Homo sapiens: one gene and its partner. The protein of the gene in region 1 purifies or fractionates together with the protein of each later gene. This does not show direct contact. Each region holds a gene or a part of one and is shown on either strand. Other genes may lie near its edges.

Region 1 (3,587 bases):
TTGAGTCCTGGGAAACCACGAGAAAAGAAGAGAGTGTCCAACCCCCAGCAGGGGCCAGCTCCTGAAGTGCTTGTTGCCGCTGAATCACTCTTTGTTGGGGAACCTCCTGCAGGGCGGTTATTATTTTGGCAATGGTGCACAGCTGAGTTTGGAGAGGCAGGAACTGAAGAAAGGCTGGGAGCCCAGTGAGGATGCTCATGCCAGTGCAGGTGTGTCTGAGACGTCCACAGTCTCTCTGGGCTGACAGTAGCTCCCTTTGGGCTGTGGTTAGCAGAGCAGGTCTCAAGTGCTGGGGCATCGTGAAGCTAGAGATGACCAGCTTGTCTTTATAGCAGTATCGTTGAAGGGAGAGTGGGGGTGACATCATGGGAGTGAGAGCACAGAGGAGGAAGAAAAGAGCACCTAGGACTGGTGGCAAAGCTTCATTTTAAGGAATGACAGACAGTAGGATGGGCCGTGAAGGTGGCCGAGAAGGTGCTCAGAAACCAGTGAAAAAGAGTAAATCGCATGGCGCGAGTTTGTCACGAGTATGGAACTGTAGAGTCTTGAGGATAATAGGGTTGGGTGATCCTCTCACCTGCAATCCTTCTAGAAGGCATCTTCAGTAAAAAGCCAGCCTGCTAGGAGTTAAGGCTGCTGAGGCAGTAGAGACAGTGGTTTTCATCCTGAGGACAGAAATGTGAGCAGGAGATTCAGGGCTATAGTTTGGAAAGATGTGAAGGGAAAGGAAGGTTGTGCTTGTCCAAATCTCAGCTCTTTACATCATATTTTCCCACCAATTGCCTCTTCCTATTGTCTTTTTTATGCTCTAGTATCAGGGGGTGGCGGGGGTGGGGGAAAAATAGTTTTTCCCACCTGATAAATTTCTTTTTATGAGTTATAATTGCTTTTCTGTAGAATGTTTGCCATCCTCCCCTAACCCACCAGCCTCCTCTGCCTGTCCTTCTGTACACCTAAACAGGACAATATATTTATGTTATGTATTTACTAACTTTTTAAATTTTATTTTTTATATATATAGAGAGAGACAGGGTCTCACTGTGTTACCCAGGCTGATCTCCAACTCCCGGGCTCACGTAACCCTCCTCCCTCCGTTTCCCACAGCGCTGGGATTACAGGCGTGAGCCACTACGCCCAGCCTATTTATGTGTTGTTGTTTTTTTTTAATCCTGTAAATCAGGCCACCTTTTTTGCATTGTTTTCAGTTTTCATGCTCTTCATTTCATGGGAGATGCATTGTTCCTTTTACTTTTGTTTTCTCCTGTTTTCTGTTATGCCTGAAAACCCTTGTCCTCCTTGTGTCTAGTGACTTCTGCTAAGGCCCTGCAGGAGGTTCCCCCAACAAAGGGTGATTCAGCTGCAACAAGCGCTTCAGGAGCTGGCCCTTGCTGAGAGTTGGACACTTTTCTTTTCTCGTGGTTTCCCAGGGCTCAGACAGGCTGACCCCAAGGACACCTAAGCCCCTTGGGTCAGAATCTTCCCCTTTCCCTAGCCTACTGCTTTCAGCCTAGTCTCTTTTCCCATGGCATAACCTTCCAGCTGCTTTCATTGTCACTCATGATATTAATCATAATATTAACTAGCATGTTTTGAGTGCTTACTGTGTGCCGGGCCCTGATCTAAGCATGTATAATCTCAGTTAACGTAGCCCTCATTTAATGTAATGTAGGGTGAAGTCAATCCTGTGAGGGAGGTAGTTTTGCTGTCTCCATATTACACATGAGAAAACAGAAGCACCAAGAAGTTAAGTTGCTCAGGTCACTTAGCTCTTAGAGATCACAGCTGGGATTCGTTAACAAAGTTACTAAAACATTCTTTTCTTTTTGTCCAGGTCTCTGAATATTGTGTGGCGACTTACTGCGGGTTTTTAGCCCCCAGTTTAAAGAGTTCAAAAGTGCGCACGAATGTCACTGTGAAGCTGAGAGTACAAGACACCTACTTGGATTGTGGAACCCTGCAGTATCGGGAGGACCCCAGATTCACGGGGTATCGGGTGGAATCCGAGGTGGACACAGAACTGGAAGTGAAAATTCAAGTATGTTTCTTTTCTTTCTGGGTGGGATGTCACCCCGACCCCTTGACTGGAAAGGTGTGTTTATGCTCGTGAGTTTCTACATGTGCTCTGATTTCTCCATCTTCATTTTGTTCTTTACAGAAAGAAAATGACAACTTCAACATTTCCAAAAAAGACATTGAAATTACTCTCTTCCATGGGGAAAATGGGCAATTAAATTGCAGTTTTGAAAATATTACTAGAAATCAAGATCTTACCACCATCCTTTGCAAAATTAAAGGCATCAAGACTGCAAGCACCATTGCCAACTCTTCTAAGAAAGTTCGGGTAAGTGACCTGGCAGTCCCACCTGCTGTCTTTACCTGATTTTTGTGATAATTCCTTGGCTAAACCAGAGGCCAGAATGGAATCTTTCATGGATCTTCAGATCCTCACTTTAAATAGAAGATAAACAAAGCTGGTACTGCGAGCCCAAGCAAAATAGCTCCAAAATAGCTGGCTGAATCCATCCCTGTGCCTGTTCGAACGTCAAAGCGTTGGACACACCATTGTCTATAATCCTAATGAGTCTTGATAGCTTTTGTTCTAGCCACACATTTATACAGTAGGATCGGCAAGCAAAATCTCTAGACCCATTGACAAATGAGCTGTCACTCTTTTCTCAAATGCGGAGGTGACATGTCTTAGCAGAAACCCAAAACAAACAAGGGCCTCTTCAGCACACTCTGGGTAGCATTAGAATCAGATGGAGACCAGATAATCTCTGGGTCATGGGCTGCTTCCTTCACCATGAAGTCATACTTTCTGCGATTAATCTTTTCCCAGATATGTTTGGGGGACGGATCACTGCTATATTTATATCCCATAATAAAGATGTGAGACCACTGAGAAGGGAAACACATTAGAAGTCACCCTTTATAGTATTCATGCCGTATGAGGCTCTGTACAGCCTATATAAATTCTTCTTGATCTATCATCATAAATAATTGGATAAAAGACAATGCAAAAGAACTTCAGACTGGAAGGCAACAACAAAAATGTGTTCATGTCCCACTGGCACCAGTTAATAGCTCTGTGGCCTTAGGTAAATCACTTGAGTTTCCTGAGCCTCTCTTAGTCCATCTGTATGATAAATGGGGTTAATAATAAGTTTTATTTGTTTTTTTAGACAGAGTCTCACTTTGTTACCCAGGCAGGAGTACAGTGGCACGATCTTGGCTTACAGCAACCTCCGCTTCCCAGTTTTAAGCAATTCTCATGCCTCAGTCACCCAAGTAGCTGGGATTACAGGTGCGCACCACCACACCTGGCTAGTTTTTTCTATTTTTAGTAGAGACGGAGTTTCACTGTGTTGGGCTGGCTGGTCCCAAACTCCTTGCCTCAAGTGATCTGCCTGCCTCGGCCTCCCAAAGTGCTGGCATTACAGGTGTGAGCTACCGCGCCCAGCCAATAGTAAGTTTTAAGTCAGGAATAACAACTAGGCTGGGAGAGACAACTCAAGCCTATAATGCCAGCACTTTGGGAAGCCAAAGCAGGAGGATCACTTGAGCCTCTAGAAGTCTGGGCAACACAG
Region 2 (3,587 bases), on another chromosome or scaffold:
GAAAAGAAATATACCTATAGTTTCAGAAGAGAGTTTAAGATTTTATATCAGTCTATTTAAAATTTATATGGTAGTTTTATAGGAAAATACTAAAATTAATTTTTTTTGGTGCAGAAAGAGGTTTAAAGAATCTGAATTGACTATCCTAGAAAAAAACGTATAAAAGATAATTGAACAAATGTCTTCCCCAAAGTGTCAGGTTTACCTCTCAGTTGTATTCAGAATAGTTGATTTTTATGATAACTGAAATACAGTGTCAAGTATACTCACTATCTATTGCTGCATAACAAATTATTCCAAAACTTGGTAGCTTAAAACAATAAACATTTGTTACCTCACACAATTTCTAAGGGTCAAGCATCTGGAAGTGGCTTATTTGGGAGTGTCTGGTTCAGGGTCTCTGAAGGAGGTTACAGGCAAGCTATTGGCTGGTGCTGTAGTCATCTGAGGCTAGAGGATCCACTAACAGACTTTCTCATGTGGTGGATGACAGACCTCAGTTCTTTGCAGCAGGTGAACTGGAGACTCTGTACTTCTATATATGGGCCTCCAGCTTCACTAGAGTGAAAGATCTGAGAGAGAGTCTAATATAGGGGCTACAGGGTTGTTTTTGTTTGTTTTGTTTTTTGACATAAATCTTGGCAATGACGTGTTAATACTTCTGTCCCATTCTGTTGTTTTATCTACGGATAAAACAACCATGGCACAATGTGGGAGGGAACTGCAAAGTTATGAATACCAGGAGATGGGTATCGGGGGGCCATCTTGAAGAATGGCAACCACAGAAAACTTCCAAATTTATTCCACAATAGCACAATTTTTATTTAAAACTAAGAAAGGATAGAACAAGAAAGAGACAGACTAATCTTACCAATGAAAATAGATTCAAAATTCCTAGAGGGAATTTTGAGAAGAAGTGTTTATTAGCAAGGATTTAAGAATGGTTCCAATCATATGAAATCTGAATCTAAATTCAGGTCTGCATTCAATCCTGGCTCAACCACCTTGTAGCTTTATAAATGACTTGTGTCTCAGCTTCTTCATCTCTAAAATAGAAATAGCAACAAAACCTTCCTTACACACAGAATGGTTATAAAGATTATATTAGATAATATATGTAAAACATAGATTGCTGTCTGGCACAGAGTAAGCACTAAGTAAATAAAACTTCATTGATTATTTAAAGAAGGTAAAACATGGTTATCTTAAGAGATACTGAAAATTTTAGGAAATAAAAATTCATTGTTAATGAAGTCCTTAGTAACCAAAGTTCTTTAGCTTGATAAAGGGTGTCTCTTAGTATCTTATTTCAAACACTATATCTGATGGATATACTACACCTGTAGTCCCAGCTACTACTCAGGAGGCTGAGGCATGAGAATTGCTTGAACCTGGGAGGCAGAGATTGCAGTGAGCTGAGATTGGTGCCACTGCACTCCAGCCTGGGCGACAGAGTGAGAGTCTATCTCAAAAAAAAAAAAAAAAGTGATGTAGGTTCTTTTAACTAGAGACCACTCTGAGATTGCAACCACTCTTAAAATTTGCTGAAGCTTTTTATTTGCTCTGTAACTTCTTGCAGTTATATTCTAATGGAGGACAATCTGGTTTGTCCAATACTGGTAATTGAGCCCTGTAAGATATGTTATGGACCACTGTTGAAATATTTCGTTTCAAATAAAAATGTGAAACATTAGTTTTGTCTTAATTTTCCTTTTGCAGCCTAGAGATTGAGTAGTTATTGGAGAATAGAAATGGAACTGTAGGGAGTGAGAAAGAGCTAAATAGGCAAGCATTTTTTTATTTCTGTCCATAAAGCTGCCTCTTCTTTCTGATTTACTATCCTGAAACTGTTAAGACAGCATCTCTCAAATTAGCTGTCTAGCAAGAGCTGTCACCTGCCATGTCCCTTGGTGCCTTTCAGTGAGTTCTTATTGGCATTTGAAATCTGCAAATAGGCAAGCCTCCAGGTTCTGGTGCCCAGGCTGAGGTTGGGTAAGTGATTGATTTATCTTCCACAAAACAAGCCCAAGAGCTGCTTTTCTGTCCAGGCCCTGCCAAAATCCTGGAAGATGGAAGCTCAAGAAACTGGCTATTTTAGTACTTTCAGGAAGTTTTGAAAGAGAAAATGAAAATGTTATGATATATGAGGATTGGTTGGCTTTTTCTCCTGTTTAAAGTGTCTGTGTAGAGAAGGAGAGTGTGGCAAAGAGCTCGACCACTAATTGCCTATTTAATGTTGCCAGCATACTTGATCTCTCTGTGCTAGGGATTTTATATCTAATGATCAGAAAAACTTGGAACACGATAGACTAATGTTTTCCAAAATTTTTAGAACAGTTTCTTGGCCTCGTGTATGGTGAGGAACTATGTATAGACAAAGAATAGACCTGGAATCATGAGACTGGAGCTTGTTCTAACTGAGTAGCTCTGGAATCTTATATTAGTTCCTTGATCTTCTTGGCTTATCCCCTTCATTTGTACAATGACAATGAAACCATAAGATAGTTTTATTGGATTTGTCTATGATTTCTGTTGTTGTGGAACAGACATTTTTCCTAACTCAATAAAATGCAGTAAATCCTGTTTTTTTAAAGAATGGAAAACTTTCCCTTTTCTTGCTAATATAAGGAAATTTTAATATGTTTAATGAATGACAGTACCTTACTAGAATTATTCAGTGTGCTAAGGCAATCTGATAGGAAAAGATTAATGATGTTGTAGATTGTGTGCTGACAAATTGGAGCCTCCAATGCACATAACTGACCACATCTAAAACTTTTAAGTGTAAAATGCGTTCATTAGTAACATCTCTTTTTTCTTGCTAGTCTTCAAAGCATGGAAATACTAAATGGATGGAGAATTTTTAGGGAATGAATCCGTCTCACAGTTAAACTTTTGTTATAGTTCATTCATTTTGATTATATAATGTTTTTACTAATATTAGTCATTAAATATTTTGTAATTGTAATTTTGATTTGTTAACTTCAACCAAGAGTTATTTTAAGTAAGTGCCTTTTAAATTATAAACAAACATGCAAGAAAAGGAAATGATTGGTGCTTTAGTTATTTTTCATTATCTTTAGCAAATGTGACTAGGTTTTTTTTTGGAAGTGTAAATGAGTGAAACTAAAATTTAAATCTTGATTTTTCAAAGCGATTTAGTTTCTGTTCTTTTAAAGTATACTTGTCTGCATGTTTGCTAGAGCAAAGGCTGTTGCACTTATAACTGTCATTTAGTAGGCTGGTTTTGCAGAGAGTGTAAAAATCAGGGCTGGATTCCTTCCTCTATATCCTGCACCATTAAGAACACAGCAACGGAACAATTTTTTGAGTAAGACATGACAGAAATATTTGGTAGATTCCGTCATTGTTTAGCAAATAATCTGGTTTTCCTTCCCCTGCATGCAAAGAGTAAGTATACTTCCTGCCCTGTTGTTGTTGGGTTTGGCCTTATGGCTTGCTTTGGCTGATGAGATGTGAGAAGAGATAATGTATACTATGTGCTTGCATGATTATGCTCTTATTCTCTTTTATAAGAAAAGCATGCCCCTTTCTGCCTAGGACTCAGAATGACAGACACGTGGAGC

What was found. The genes of interacting proteins can lie anywhere in the genome.
Region 2: the proteins of PLXNC1 (region 1) and MANEA purify together in Homo sapiens (affinity purification with mass spectrometry; one large-scale study listed by BioGRID and IntAct). This does not show direct contact.

The regions. Positions count from the first base shown.
Region 1 is NC_000012.12:94,246,072-94,249,658, forward strand, and holds part of PLXNC1 (plexin-C1 precursor), read left to right. Parts: intron 1-1,831; coding exon 1,832-2,035; intron 2,036-2,155; coding exon 2,156-2,341; intron 2,342-3,587.
Region 2 is NC_000006.12:95,597,948-95,601,534, forward strand, and holds part of MANEA (glycoprotein endo-alpha-1,2-mannosidase), read left to right. Parts: intron 1-3,587.